Homo sapiens: one gene and its partners. The protein of the gene in region 1 interacts with the protein of each later gene in a biochemical or structural test. Each region holds a gene or a part of one and is shown in the gene's direction. Other genes may lie near its edges.

Region 1 (2,704 bases):
GGTACTGTCGTCACGCCCATTTTACAGATGGGGGACCGAGAGGTTCAATAACTGCCCAGGGATCCTCCCCGAGGGAGGCTGGTGATGGGCTTCATAATTCTTGTTCATTGTGACCACTGTGGTGATGATGATGGCAGTGATGATGGTGACAGGTGACTGTGGTTGGGTGGTTGATGGTGGCGGTGGCCATGTTCATGAAAAACACAGGCATGTGGGTATTGGTGACGATGGTGGTGTTTGTCAACCAGGGTGACAGCAATGGTGATGGCGACACGGTGCCAACGGGGAGACCATGTTGCATGGTTGGTGGCAGCAATGCCCATGTCTTTGATGGTCATAGGGAAGGTGGTATTGGTGATGCTGGTGACGGTGTTGGCCCAGCCCTGATGGGCATGGATGGTGACGCGATGGTGACCGAGAACCTCCCTTTGCAGATTTGAAGTTCCTGAATAACCACATCCTGGTGAAAGACGCTCAGGAGAAGGCCAACGCCGCCCTGCTTGACTACACCCTGTGCCACTACCCGCACTGCGGGGACAAATTCCAGCAGCTGCTGCTGTGCCTGGTGGAGGTGCGGGCCCTGAGCATGCAGGCCAAGGAGTACCTGTACCACAAGCACCTGGGCAACGAGATGCCCCGCAACAACCTGCTCATCGAAATGCTGCAAGCCAAGCAGACTTGAGCCTGGGCCGGGGGCGGGGCCGGGACTGGGGGCGGGACTGGGGGCGGGGCCTGGGCGGGGCCGCAGCCACACCGCTGGCTCCGCATGGTTCATTTTCTGATGCCCACCGAGGAGCCCCAGCCCCGTCCCAGAGGCCGCTGCCCCTGAGTTCTGACACTGTGTGTTTGGGAAGGTGGGTGAGGCTGGGCAGGGCCTGGCGGAGGTGGAGTGGCCACTGGCACTTGCCTGCTGCTTGGAGTGCCCCAAGGAGGTGGCTGTTAACCACCCGCCCCGCCCCCTCCCTGCTCCCAGCTCTCTCTCCTGGAGTCTGAAGCCTGCAGGTCCGGGGAGGAGGTTCGGGATTCCCTGGTGGGCCTCGACGTCCCTTGGATCAGAGGTCATCCCTTCCTCCTCTCCTGGAAACAGACAGGGAGAAGTTGAGCAGGTATCAACTAGGGGAGGAGAGAGGGTCTCCAGTGTTCCCCCCATAGAGACCAGGAGGGAGAGCCTCTGTTTTGTAAACTAAGGATAACCGAGTTTGCTAAATTGAGAGGGGCTATTGGGCCCTAGAGGACACTAGGAGACTGGTTAGGACAAAAAGACCTTCTCCCTAGCCCTTCTACCCCACCTGACCTCTGCAAGAGGGGGCATTGATACATCATCGGGAAAAAACTTTGCTCCAGGCATCACTGATTCCCTCTCCCACCCAAGGAGAACGTTTGGTACAATCGACATCCTAGCCCCACCCAGAGGTGGCCCTCCCAGGCTGGTATTTATCTGCAAGGTTGTAGTCAAGAGGTTTTTCTCCCCGCTTTTTGTTTTTAAGCTTCTAGACACTCCTTGAAATGTGTGTGTGATGGAGGGAAGGGGACAGATTTGAGGACTGAAGCTGGGGCTTGGGGATTGCCACTAAGTACAGCTGACGGTTTCTCCCCGGACACTCGCCTACTAAGTACCCTTGGGGTGGTGCTGGGTCATTACTTCTGAGCCCCAGCCCCAATCCAGAGAAGCGCTGTTGCCCGCCCTCCACCCACTAGGTGAACAGCAGGATGCCCTGTTGGGGGCTTCAGGTCTCTGTGGGTGGGAATGCAAGTGAACTTGGGAGGGGGCACGGGCCTGTAGATCAGGGATAGCGCTGTTGATCCCCTCTCTGTGGCTCCAACCCGTTGGGTCCCTTGCTGCAAACCCATGAAGCTGGCCCTCAGCTCCCTGACCCCCTGTCCTAGGTCATGAAGGACACTCTGCAGGGTGAAGCACCAGGGAGAGGCCTCGGCTGTCTCCTGTCCCCGGCGGGGTGCCTGCTGTCCGTCCCGCTTTCATGTTACTGTTGCAGCTTGTGCTGAGCCTGCCCAGTTGGAGGAGACTGGGCACCCCTGCCTCCTGCCTCCCGCCTCCCGCCACCCTGTCTCAGTACCTCCCCTCCCCGCCCCCTGAAACATGTGCCCCTGCCAAGGCCGGAGACCCACAGCCCTGAAACGAGAAGTGCCCTTAAGGATCACCCCAGCCCCCACAGCCCTGGAATAAATTTCGCAATTAGTTTCCAGCTACCTTTGCCTGTGTACGTTCTGGGGCCAAAGCAGAACGGCCCGGGTGGATTCCGGGTGGTCTAGGTTGGGGCAGCGCTCTGACTTGGATGGAGGTGGCACGCAGACCCTCTTTGCTTCAAAACTCTGAGGAGGCAGGTGGGTGGCGGGGCCGGGTGGGGGGACACCAGGCACTGTTGGGGTTTGGGACCCACCTCATCCCTGGGACCCTGAGGCACTGGGAGGCCAGGGGGATGCTGTAGCCTCTCTGCCTGTTGCATGCTGGCCATGCCAGCTCAGCCCCCATCTTGGGGCAGAAGGAGCAGCCATTTAAGGGGCACCTACTGTGTGCCACCCTCATCTCACTGTCCCCGCAGCAGCCCTGTGAGGCAGGGGTTATACTCTAGGAGGGGAAGGCACTTGCCAAGGGCCCATGAGCCACAGACCTGGGAGACCAGACCCCTCAGAGCCCTGCCCTTTCCTGTCTGCCCCACCACGTCCCTCACAGGTTCCTCCCCAG
Region 2 (5,951 bases), on another chromosome or scaffold:
TCATGCCTGTAATCCCAGCACTTTCGGAGGCCGAGGTGGGCGGATCATAAGGTCAGGAGATCGAGACCATCCTGGCTAACACAGTGAAACTCCATCTCTACTAAAAATACAAAAATTAGCTGGGCGTGGTGGCGGTTGCCTGTAGTCCCAGCTACTCGGGAGGCTGAGGCAGGAGAATGGTGTGAACCTGGGAAGCGGAGCTTGCAGTGAGCCAATATTGCGCCACTGCACTCCAGCCTGTGTGACAGAGCGAGACTCCATCTCAAAAAAAAAAAGAAAAGAAAAGAAAAATTCAGCCAGGCACGGTGGCTCATGACTGTCATTCTAACACTTTGGGAGGCTGAGGCGGGCAGATGACTTGAGGTCAGGAGTTTGAGACCAGCCTGGCCAACATGATGAAACCCCGTCTCTACTAAAAATACAAAAATTAGCCGGGTGTGGGCCAGGCGCGGTGGCTCACACCTGTAATCCCAGCACTTTGGGAGGCAGAGGTGGGTGGATCACGAGGTCAGGAGATCGAGACCATCCTGGTGAACCCCTATCTCTATTAAAAATACAAAACATTAGCCGGGCATGGCGGCACATGCCTGTAGTCCCAGCTACTCGGGAGGCTGAGGTGGGAGAATGGCATGAACCTGGGAGGCAGAGCTTGTAGTGAGCAGAGATCGCGCCACTGCACTCCAGCCTGGGTGACAGAGTGAGACTCCATCTCAGGAAAAAAAAAAAAAGCCAGGTGTGGTGGCGCACACCTGTAGTCCCAGCTACTCGGGAGCCTGAGGCAGGAGAATCACTGGAACCGGGGATGCCAAGGTTGCAGTGAGCTGAGATCGCACCACTGCACTCCAGCCTGGGTGACAGAGTGAGACTCTGTCTCAAAAAAATAAATAAATAAATAAATAAAATAAAATAAAAACTAAATAAACAAATACCAGTGGCTGCAGCTATCATAACCACTCCCTTTCTTCTGTCCCCACAGTGGGCAATGGGCTGGTGGCTGGCAGCTCTGACTCATCCAGCTCTGGCTCTGCCTCTGACTCTGAGGAGTCTCCTGAGGGCCAGCCGGTCAAGGCTGCGGCAGCGGCAGCGGCAGCGACGCCCACCAGCCCGGTGGGCAGCAGCGGGCTCATCACTCAGGAGGGCGTGCACATTCCCTTTGACGTCCACCACGTGGAAAGCCTGGCCGAGCAGGGTACCCCGCTGTGCTCCAACCCAGCAGGCAATGGGCCTGAAGCCCTGGAGACAGTGGTGTGCGTGCCGGTGCCTGTGCAAGTGGGTGCGGGCCCCAGCGCCCTCTTTGAGAACGTGCCCCAGGAGGCCCTGGGTGAGGTGGTGGCCAGCTGCCCCATGCCAGGCATGGTGCCCGGCTCACAGGTGATCATCATTGCGGGCCCTGGTTACGACGCTCTCACGGCCGAGGGCATTCACCTCAACATGGCAGCAGGCAGCGGTGTCCCCGGCAGTGGACTGGGCGAGGAGGTGCCCTGTGCCATGATGGAGGGTGTGGCAGCCTACACCCAGACAGAGCCCGAGGGTAGCCAGCCTAGCACCATGGACGCCACCGCAGTAGCAGGCATCGAGACCAAGAAAGGTCTGGGGGACCTGTCGTGGCCTCTGGCCAGGGGTGGTTGGGCCTGGGAGGGGCCGGGCGAGGAATGGCCCTCGAAGTGGGCACCTCGGCAGCCTTCGTCCCCTGCGGACACCACCCTGTGTCCACCCTGTAGAGAAGGAGGACCTGTGCTTGCTAAAGAAGGAGGAGAAGGAGGAGCCAGTAGCCCCGGAGCTGGCAACAACGGTGCCTGAGAGCGCAGAGCCTGAGGCAGAGGCGGACGGGGAGGAGCTGGACGGCAGCGACATGTCAGCCATCATCTATGAAATCCCCAAGGAGCCTGAGAAGTGGGTGCCGGGGCGGGCAAGGGTGAGGGCGAGGGCTAGAAGCGGCCCGCAGGCCCCCAGCCTGCCTGGTGCGGGAGCCCCGATGTCATGGCCCCTTCCCCTCCAGGAGGCGGCGGAGCAAGCGGTCGCGGGTGATGGATGCTGACGGCCTGCTCGAGATGTTCCACTGCCCATACGAGGGCTGCAGCCAAGTCTACGTGGCCCTCAGCAGCTTCCAGGTGAGGCCGCCACCCGGAGCAGCCTGGGCCAGGCCCACAAGGCCCAGGCCATGGCACCACCAGGATGTCCTACCTCTAGTTTGCCCCTTGAAATTTGACGAGGTGTCCCTGAAGGCAAAGACAGGGACTTGTCACACCCCAGGACCTGGCATGGGAGGATGCAACAACAGGCCTTTGTGCCATGCCATGCATTGATTGAGCATGTATTAAGCACTTAGTGCAAGCCAGGCCTGCAAGCTGGAGCCAGGGTTGTTCTAGTAAGTTAAAGAGTGAAGGAACAAAGGAATGAATCAATTGGGGCTGCCTGTTCCAGGCCCACAGAGGCTGATAGCCCTCAAATCCAGTCCCAGTCCTGCCACTGGCCACCTGTGAGACCTTGGCCAAACCACAGAGCCTTGAACCTCAGTTTCCCCATCGATTAATTGGGCTAACAGCTGGGCCCTTCACAGAGTTGACAGATACCCCAGTCCAGAGCCTGGCATATAGTAGGTGTTCAATAAAGCTGCCCTTGGCCAGGTGCGGTGGCTCACACCTGTAATCCCAGCACTTTGGGAGGCCGAGGTGGGCGGATCACGAGGTCAGGAGATCGAGACCATCCTGGTTAACACGGTGAAACCCTGTCTGTACTAAAAAATACAGAAAAAAATAATAGCAGCCGGGCGTGGTGGCGGGCGCCTGTACTCCCAGCTACTCAGGAGGCTGTGGCAGGAGAATGGTGTGAACCCGGGGGGGTGGAGCTTGCAGTGAGCTGAGAGAACACCACTGCACTCCAGCCTGGGCGACAGAGCAAGACTCCATCTCAAAAAATAAAAAAAATAAAGCTACCCTTTGACCCCAGTTGTGCCCCTGGGAATCTCTGAGCTGGGCAAGGGTACCCCTCTTCCCTCCTCCTGGGGAGGCCAGCCCCAGCCTGCCTTCCAGCTGCCCTCATCTCTCCCCACCTCCCAGAGCCCCTTCTGTGGGCCTATGGGACCCACTTCTGCCTGTCTCGTCTCCAGAACCACGTCAATCTTGTGCATCGGAAAGGAAAGACCAAAGTGTGCCCTCATCCTGGCTGTGGCAAGAAGTTCTATTTATCCAACCACCTGCGGCGGCACATGATCATCCATTCAGGTCAGGCCCTGGGCCAGCTGGCAGCATGAGCGGGGGACACAGGGACATGGGCCTGGGAGCCTGGGCCAGAGCTGGCGGGTCAAAGCCCAGTGCTGGGTCTCCGGGCACAGGACTACACCCCTAGGAGCCTCCTCCCTGTCCTCAGTAAGCTGTAGCTATGTGAGCCACAGCGACAGGAACTATTACCAATCAATCACAGGAATTGGGTGGGGCTGGCCATCTTCCCTCCTATCCCCGCGACCCCATGCCCCATGATCCCAAGAGCAGGTCTCATGCGAGACTTAGGGAGCAGCTGACACCGCCACTGCTCTTCCAGATTGGAACCTATAGCAGCACCTGGGGCCACAGGCTAGACCAGTGCCCACCCAAGCAGCAGCAGGAAGGAGAGCTGGGCAAAGAGGAGCAGCTGGCTTGGGACTGGGCTTCTGTTTCCACTTGTGGCAGAGATGCAGGTCTTCTGCATGGGCTGGGGACATAGTGGAGAGCCATGGTGCCTGTGTCCAGCGATAGGGCATGCCCTGAGGGCCAGAGCTTCTGATATCACAGGAGGTCAGAAGTTTGGGGGTTTTTTTTGTTTTTTTTGGTTTTTTTTAATGTGTGTGTGGTTATTTTTTGCAACAGAGTCTCACTCTGTTGCCCGGGCTGGAATCCGATCTTGGCTCACTGCAGCCTCTGCCTCCCGGGTTCAAGCAATTCTTCTGCCCCAGCCTCCCAAGTATCTGGGATTACAGGCGCTCACCACCATGCCAGCTAATTTTTTTTTTTTAGTAGGGACAGGGTTTCGCCATGTTAGCCAGGCTTGTCTCCAACTCCTGATCTCAGGCGATCTGCCCACCTTGGCCTCCCTAAGTGCTGGGATTATAGGTGTGAGCCACCGTGCTGGGCAGAAGTTTTTTTTGTTTTTGTTTTTGTTTTCATTTTGCGAAATCACCCAAAGTTCAAATATCAGGGACAAGGCCGGGCGTGGTGGTAATCCCAGCCCTTTGGGAGGCTGAGGTGGGCAGATCACCTGAGGTCAGGAGTTCGAGACCAGCCTGACCAACATAGAGAAACCCCGTCTCTACTAAAAATACAAAATTAGCTGGGCATGGTTGGTGGCACATGCCTGTAATCCCAGCTACTCAGGAGGCTGAGGCAGAAGAATCGCTTGAACCCGCGAGACCAAGGTTGTGGTTGCGGTAAGCCGAGATCGGGCCATTGCACTCCAGCCTGGGCAACAAGAGCGAAACTCCGTCGCAAAATATATATATACACACACACAAGACAAATTCAGACCCATGTTGGCTTGGTAGTGTGCACCCTATGCCTCTCAGGGACCCAAGTTCGATCTCAGTTCTGCTTGATGGCGTCTGTGGGCAAATGCACGGGAAGGACGTAGGGTTTGGTCGGCCTGCACCTGCAGTCCTGGGAGATCCAAGGAGACAGCCTGATGCTCCTTCTAGCATCAGAGTCTGCAGCACATCAGAGACACCCCATAGCCCACCGTCCTCAGCCTCGGTCCCCACCGCCCCCAGGTGTCCGTGAATTCACCTGCGAGACCTGCGGCAAGTCCTTCAAGAGGAAGAACCACCTGGAGGTACATCGGCGCACCCACACCGGCGAGACCCCCCTGCAGTGAGTGACAGGCCGCCCCGTGCCGCTAGAGGATTGGGTGGGAGGGGATCCCAGCAGGTCCCAGGGGCGGCTTCGCCCCAACGCAGTGTCTGGGCCCGGTTCCACCTGCGCTCGGCCTTGTAGGGCCCCGCCCCGCCCCGCCCACTCTGACCCCGCCCCGTCCCGCCACGGGCTCCCGGCAGGTGCGAGATCTGTGGCTACCAGTGCCGGCAGCGCGCGTCGCTCAACTGGCACATGAAGAAGCACACTGCGGAGGTGCAGTACAACTTCACGTGCGATCGCTGCGGGAAGCGCTTCGAGAAGCTGGACAGCGTCAAGTTCCACACGCTCAAAAGCCACCCGGATCACAAGCCCACCTGACCCACCTGACCACTGACCGCCCCTATTTATTCGTCCGCTCGGACACCACGCCCGGGCTTGCCGGGGCCTGGACAGCTGCGAGGGCCGCCCGGACCGCGGGCCGGAAGGAGGCGCCCCCGCCCCGCCCCAGAGCTGGGCCCCCTGGGCAGGTTCCCCACCCCGCCCCACCGCATCCTTCTCGGAGCTGGTGCCTGGGGCTGCATTGCTGGAACTGTGTCAAGAGAGCAGAGTGAGATTAAAGAGCGAGAAAGGAGATGCCCTTCCCCTAGGCCTGAATGATTTGGGGTGCCAGGCCCCTCTCTGTCTCCAGCCTACTTGATCCCTTCCTAAGCGAGGCAGGGAACGAGGGATGCCCCTGGGCCCAGCAGCCTCGCACAGCCCCTGCTCCCACAGGATGGGGTGAGGCTTGGGGGTCTGGGGTCTCTGGGCATCTCCCGGAACTCAGGACCCTAATTTCCACTTCCTCCTGTTTTATGGGGCACCCATCTCCCACCCTCAGTGAGCTCCGGGATGAGATGGGGAGGTGTTCAGTAAACCCCTAAAATGAGAAACATTTGCAGCTAGCGACAAGCGCCATGCAAAAGAGAGAGTGATGCGTTGTTTTCCGGGGATGCTGTTTAGGTCGGTGGTCAGGGAGGGCCTCTGAGGAGGTGGCATTTGCGCATAGACCAGAATGACAAAGATCTATCCCAGAAGAAAGCTGGGGGAGGAAATTCTCAGGCCAGAGGAACAACCAGTGCCAAAACCCCGAGG
Region 3 (7,040 bases), on another chromosome or scaffold:
CACAAAAAATAAAGCTTGTTTATGATTTTCTTTTTCTCCTTCTTTAATGGGTGGGTTGGTTATAATAACCGAAAGCGTTATTTTTTTGACAAATGTAAGGATTCTCTGTGAAGCTGATTAGCCAGGAAGTGTTAAAATTGTCTTGTGTTCAATAGTTGGCTTAAGTTTACAGTATTGGTAAAGTGACAAAGAACTTAAAGTAGTTTGATGCTCAAGGCTAGGGGAAACATCACTGGAAAGAAAGGTGGGGAAGGTACCAATTTCTAGCCATTTCTGGGCTTTGGATTTTTTATCTTAAAAGTGCGTGGTTTGATCCGTGAGTTCCCTTCCGGCTCTGAAATTCTGTGTCTTGTAAGCGAGGTCTCCAGAGGTCTTGACAGTCTCTTCCTGAGCCAACGGCCAATTGCTTCATGGACTTGGGTGAGCTGATTAACTTCTGTTTTTGTCTTCTCATGGAGAAAGTGGATTTGATCCTTGGTATTCCAGAAAGGTCTCTTGAGTGGCCTGGTGATCTTGACCATCAAACACAAGGAAATACTTATGAATAAATGTCTGCCAGTGTCTTGGACAAAAAATTCTCAATTCTATGCACTAACAGAGAGTGCAGCATGTACATATCCTAGGTACCAAAAATAATTTCTGTTCATCTTAGAAGTTTCTTCTCCAGCCAGTTGGTTAACTTGTCTAATCCTTGGTCAAGTCTAAGGTTAACCAAGCTCTTATTCCCAGGCAGCAGGAGGAGATAGCTTTGGGGAGAAACTGGAGACCAGAAAGCCCAGTGTGGCTTTGCCTGCTTTCTGTGGGTAATTGGGATTTGGCTGAATATTTGTGATAAGGTTCATAATAATGATATAGTATCATTTTTATCACCAGGATTCTCTGTATTTCACTATGGGCATTTTTGGGAGAAGCTCTTGATGTTTTTATTGACTTTGGACATTGCCATGAAAAGTAAGGATTTAGGGCTGGGCGCGGTGGCTCATGCCTGTAATCCCAGCACTTTGGGAGGCCGAGGCAGGCGGATCACCTGAGGTCAGGAGTTCAAGACCAGCCTGGCCAACATGGTGAAACCCCGTCTCTACAAAAATACAAAAATTAGCTGGGCATGATGGTGGGGGTCTGTAATCCCAGTTACTTGGGAGGATGAGGCATGAGAAGTGCTTGAACCTGGGAGGCAGAGGTTGCAGTGAGCCGAGATCATGCCATTGCACTCCAGCCTGGGTGACAGAGCGAGACTCTGTCTCAAAAAAACAAAAACAACAACAACAAAAAAGAAAAGTAAGGATCTAGGCAAGTGGCTTATACCCCAGGCGGTATAAATGGTGCTCATGGTCCTGCTCTAAAGGCGGTTGAATTCAGCTCATTTTATTTCCGACCTCATAAAACTGTGTGGCTGAGGGAGGAGGAAGGATTAAAATCATCTGGGATCTTGTGGATTAATGATATTTCTGAATTTGCATGTTGAAGGGAAACCAGTAAAATAAAGGAGAACTAACGAATAGTTGATTTCTTTTGTGGAGAGAGGAGGACAAGAACAGCTGGATTCCAGTTACTGGCGTGCGTTGCCACAAGGGTGCTGTGGGCATTTTTAAGGAATAATATAGTCTCAGTAACATGAGTTTGACCCCAGGGCTCTCTTAATAAATCTTTTCTTCTGGGCTAAAGAAAACACACAACAAAAAGCCTCTGTGATATTTTCTAAGAATTTTAAGTTCTCAGAGTAGCTGCTTGTAGTAATTTGGTTTACTGAAGAAACAGATGATTCTTGGTCTTTCATCATGGAAGACGATGAGCTGGCATGGGGTAGCATATGCTGAGCTGTTGGGGTTTGGTTTAGCAACATAAACATTTCTTTTTATATGTTTGATAGAGCAGGAAGGGGACAAAGAACCCGTGTGCCTAAATAACAGTGATAACTCTGAGCTCAAAGAACGAGGGTTTTGTTTGTTTGTTTGTTTCTTTGAGACAGCATCTTGCTCTCTCACTCAGGCTGGAGTGCTGTGGCTCAATCTCAGCTCACTGCAGCCTCTGCCTCTCGGGTCCAAGTGATCCTCCTGCCCCAGCCTCCCAGGTAGCTGGGATTACAGGCGTGCACCACCATGCCCAGCTACTTTTAATTTTATTTTAGTAGAGACAGGGTTTCACCATGTTGACCAGGCTGGTCTTGAACTCCTAGCCTCAAGTGATCCGCCCACCTTGGCCTCCCAAAGTGCTGGGATGACAGGCGTGAGGCACCACACCCGGCTGCGGAACGAGGGTTTTTTTAATGCCATAAGCAGCCCTGGTTTCTTTCATACATGCGGCAGCTTCTTATTGAGGACTTACTATTTGCCAGGCACTGTGTTAAAGCTCCAGAAATATATTGATAATTGAAAGAGACATAATCATCTCCCTCTACCCATACCCCTACCCTTACCACTTCACTTACAGTCCAGAGGCAGACATGTAAAGAAATACAGCTTGCCAATTGTGATCAGTGCTCTGATGAAACCACAAGTCCAGTGACTTGGATGGATTTCATTAGAGTAGCCTGGAAAGGCCTCTCTGAGGTTTGGGGGTTGGGGGAGACAGCACATGAAGCAGAGGAGAGCCTGTGCAGAAGGACTTTGGTTTTGGAGAACTCAAAGAGGCACAGGTGGTCAAGGATGAAGGAGGGAGGGCAGCATGAGATGATTGTGCAGGACTCTCTGGGCTTTGAAAAGGTTTACATTTCATTTGAAGTGTAGTGGGAAGCCATTGAAAGTTTGGAGTGGGACTGGGCACGGTGGCTCACACCTGTAATCCTAGCACTTCGGGAGGCCGAAGCGGGTGGATAGCCTGAGGTCAGGAGTTCCAGACCAGCCTGGCCAAAATGGTGAAACACTGTCTTTACTAAAAATACAAAAATTAGGCTGCGTGGTGGCGGATGCCTGTGATCCCAGCTACTTGGGAGGCTGAGGCAGGAGAATCACTTGAGCCCAGGAGGTGAAGGTTGCAGTGAGTGGAGATCGTGCCACTGCACTCCAGCCTGGGTGACAGAGCGAGACTTCATCTCAAAAACAACAACAACAAAACAAACAAACAAAAGAAAGTTTGGAGTGGGAAGCGACAGCCCCTAATTCACGTTTTAAGAAGATTGCATTGGTGGAGAAGAGAGCAGAGAAAGGCAGAGCACAGTAAAGAGGCAGGTGGAGGAGGAGGCGAAGGAGGTGCATGGAGAGGAGTGGGTGGGTGTGAGATGCTCATTAGGAGTAGAATGGGCAGGGCTGCTGTGGGGTGGGGAGAAGCATCTAGAACTCCGAGGTTTCTGGCTTGTGCAGTTGAGTAGATGGTGGTGCTGTTTCCTGAGATGAAGAAAGATTGGGAGAGGGAGGCGGGCAGAATCAAGATATTTTAGTTGGGGCACCACTAAGTTTGAGGTGCCTATTAGACTCAAAGTGGAGATGTCAAGTAGGGTAATCTGATCTACCACCTAGCACGAGATAAAAATGTGGGAGCCATCGGCATGGAGAGAACATTTAAATGCAGGAGAGTGGACAGAATGCCCTAAGGAGCCCGTGGAGAGAGAAGAACAGGCAGTGTGAAGGAGGTGTGTGCTGTGTGTGTGTGTGTGTGTGTGTGTGTGTGTGTGTGTCTGTGTGTGTAGTGTTTCCTGAGGCTGATAAGGCCAGAAAAATCACCATTGGATTTGTTTCATCGTTTTTTGTTTTTTTTTTTTTTGAGATGGAGTCTTGCTCTGTTGTCCAGGCTGGAGTGCAGTGGCGTGATCTCAGCTCATGCAACCTCTGCCTCCCATGTTCAAGTGATTCTCTTGCCTTAGCCTCCCGAGTAGCTGGGACTACAGGCATGTGTCACCACGCCTGGCTGGTTTTTATATTTTTAGTAGAGACGGGGTTTCACCATGTTGGCCAGGCTGGTCTCAAACTCCTGACCTCAGGTGATCCACCTGCCTTGGCCTCCCCAAGTGCTGGATTACAGATGTGACCTACTGCACCAGGCCCTGAATTTGGCAAAATGGAATCTGTCTGTGACTTGTGAAGAACAGTTTCAGTGGAGTGAAGGGTTGGCTGGGACCACGACTGGAGAGAGTTGGGAGGGGATCGTGAGGGAGGAGCTGCGGACAGCCCGTGTAGTCAACTCTTTGGCAAAATTTGATGATGAAAGGCGAGGAGCAGAGAAACGGAGTGGGAGCTGGAAGGATGTGCACAAGGGAAAGAGGTTTTTTGGAAGTGTTGGTAATTTGTGTGCTGATGGGAAAGATCAGTGGAGAGGGAGTGACTGATCAAGAGAAACGAGTTGGGTCAGTTGAGCAAAAAGCCCTTGAGAAGGTCTGAGGGGAAGATCTGGCCTTTGTAAGGGGGTGGGGGATACTTCAGGAACTTGCTCCATCATGACAGGGAAGAAAAACTGATAAGGGGGCAGATGCTAAGGAGTGGGCAGGCAGGGGACTCTGTGGAGGACCGAGATGCTCTGCCTCCCCAGGCTGAGGCTGCCCTGTCCCTGGGAAGGAGTTTGGGCTTAGGACTTGATACCAGCCAGAGACTCAAGGGTTAAGACTGCATCAGAAATGGTACTGCATTTTTCTGAACATTTGACTGCGTTACTGAGCGGCACAGAGGAAAGAGTGAATTCTTTAGCTTGGAGAAAAGAGTCTTCAGTTAAAGTAATTTGGGCCTCACATTAAATTTATTTGAAAACTATGATTAGAAAAAGACTTCTGTGATTTTCAGCCCTGTTCAGAGTTGGTGGGTACTGTCATAGGTTTTGAGCAAGAAGCTCAAAAGAAAAAAAAGCAAAAAAAAAAAAAAAGCAAAGGCTGCCTGTTGTTTAGGTTGTCTTTCACAAAAAATATCCCATGGACTACCAGCCTCGGTGGTTCCCAGCCATGGGGTCTGCATGGGAGGTGGGTGGAAAAGGAGAGAGTCAGAGCTGGATTGAGATCCAGCTCTACACCAAGGCTCTGGACTAGTCGACCTCCGAGCCTCTCTACATCTGTAAAAAGAGGGCTGGTACCATCTTCACCTCTCCTCTTCAAGTTGTGAGAGGGAATCAGATCATGTATGGAAAGTGCGATGTCAACGGTAAGAGGCATAGAACAGAGGCAGCAGTGAGGCGACTTGATCTTCAGCCAGGTCTTCTTTTCAGATATAAAATCTGACAGCCAGCGAAACATTTCCCTTGTCCACTCCCACTGTTGTTCCCTACGTGTAGCTGCCTTCTATTTGGGGTTTTCAAGTTCTCTGTGATCCTTTAGCAAAACTGCTCTTCTTGTCGGAAGGCTGGCCTCAGAAATGCTGGCTGGGCAGTGCCAGTCAATACAGGTTCAAATTCTGATTCCATATTCAGAATCTGGGACCTGCCCACCCAAAGGGCCAAATAAACTTGGTTTGCTCCACAAAGAATCCTGTGAACTGGGTGCAGGAGAACCTTGAACCTACCCCAAGAAACCCGACTGAGGTTCTACAGTCTTAGCCGTCTTCATTTGCATTCAGTGTTTGTTTTGCAAATAAGGATTGTGCTATGAAGCTGAATCTACCTAAAAGCAGTCATTAGCCCTTAGTCTTACTGTGTATGCTGGAAAGTCAATTCTCATTTTAAAAAGATATCCAGTGCTTTTCACTAATCGGGCTCCTGGCCTCTGCCTAAGAAGGTGAAGCTTTATTTATTTATTTAAAAATGATCTTTATTATGAAAAAACTTTAAACATACACAAAAGCAGAGAGGCTAGTATAATGAACTCTCTTGTACTCATCACCTAGATTTAGCAATTATTGAGATTTTGCCACACCTGTGGATAATGGGGCTTCTTCTGTATTTGTATAATAAATATGTGTCGTTGATTTTGAAAAACAGTGGAACTGATAGCAATTTGGTTTCATAGAGAGAAGGAAGAAATCAACGAAAAATCAGAGAGAGAGGAAATGGAGGCCATCACTGAAATAACTCGCATTTTGTAGTTCCAAAGCCTCTTTGACATATCTTATTTGTGTTCTGCAACAACCAGAGAAGGTAGATATCCTCATTTTATAGCTGAGGAAACTGAGGCTCGAGAAGTAAAATTGGAAAATATAAATAAATGATCAACTAAGAGTCACCTGTTCAGCCAGCATCCAAAGCCCTGATTTAATGCCACAATTTGAATGGTTTCCAAATTTTGTGCACTCTGAAATAGATAATACTATACAGCATTAAATAAAAGAATGTGGTACAGAATATATGTAAAAGATCGTGGAAACCAGGAAGATCATCTGGGTGTTTTGGGCTTACAACTCCAATGAGCTTAGTTGGAAATACTCAGATGATTTAAGCATGTTTTTGGCATGACATTTTTGAAAACTTAAATTGTTTGCCTCCATTATTCTGGAGCACAAAGCTTTAAGGCTGCCTTATAATGAAGGCCAAGACTTGACTTTAACAAATTGGGCAGCTATTTGGGCAGCTATTTGCCATCTGTGTCCTACTGTCAGCTCTGTCCCTTCTGTGGGGCCCCTCAGCAGAGGGACCTGGGTGGTCTAGTGGTCATTTCTAGATGGTGTGGCCTCTAGCCCCTGGGCTCTGACTTTGGAGATAACAGGGCCCTGGACAGCTTGCTCCCTCAGAAAGAATCCTTCCTGAGGGCCTCTAGGGGTCTTTGTCATTACAGAGGCTGCTCCTAGGGCCTCCCTTGGTCTTTGGGAAACTGCCCCCAATCTAACTCCTTTGAAAGATTTTTTTTTTTTAAAGGAAAAGAAAAAAAGCTGGAGTTGATGCCCAAGGAGTTTTAATAGGAGTGTCGTTTGAGTTCCCTCTGTTGTCATTACAATAGGAGATACCAAGCTCCCTTAAATTCAACTGAAGGACACCAGTAATGAGGCTGATTCTGAAGTATTGGGGCTTGAGTTCGCTTTTCTTTGTTAATTGGGTGAATACATGCGAGCTGAGGGGTTTTCAGGGGGAGCCACAGTAAGTAAGGACATTTAGGGGCCTCTTTCCTTTTGAAGAGTCTGAGCTTCTTTAGAAGGCAGTATGGAATTCAAACCTCGCAAACGCTCATTCCTTAAGTCTTTCTTGATGGCTCTGTG

The links.
Region 2: the proteins of NR5A1 (region 1) and ZNF653 form a complex in vitro, tested with the Homo sapiens proteins (one study listed by BioGRID).
Region 3: the proteins of NR5A1 (region 1) and TRERF1 form a complex in vitro, tested with the Homo sapiens proteins (one study listed by BioGRID).

Annotation. Positions count from the first base shown.
Region 1 is NC_000009.12:124,480,736-124,483,439, reverse strand, and holds the end of NR5A1 (steroidogenic factor 1), read left to right. Parts: intron 1-434; coding exon 435-682; 3' UTR 683-2,204; downstream 2,205-2,704. UniProt on the Homo sapiens protein: Transcriptional activator. Essential for sexual differentiation and formation of the primary steroidogenic tissues. Binds to the Ad4 site found in the promoter region of steroidogenic P450 genes such as CYP11A, CYP11B and CYP21B.
Region 2 is NC_000019.10:11,482,929-11,488,879, reverse strand, and holds the end of ZNF653 (zinc finger protein 653), read left to right. Parts: intron 1-976; coding exon 977-1,588; intron 1,589-1,721; coding exon 1,722-1,893; intron 1,894-1,999; coding exon 2,000-2,111; intron 2,112-3,109; coding exon 3,110-3,224; intron 3,225-4,738; coding exon 4,739-4,838; intron 4,839-5,020; coding exon 5,021-5,198; 3' UTR 5,199-5,451; downstream 5,452-5,951. UniProt on the Homo sapiens protein: Transcriptional repressor. May repress NR5A1, PPARG, NR1H3, NR4A2, ESR1 and NR3C1 transcriptional activity.
Region 3 is NC_000006.12:42,441,927-42,448,966, reverse strand, and holds part of TRERF1 (transcriptional-regulating factor 1), read left to right. Parts: intron 1-7,040.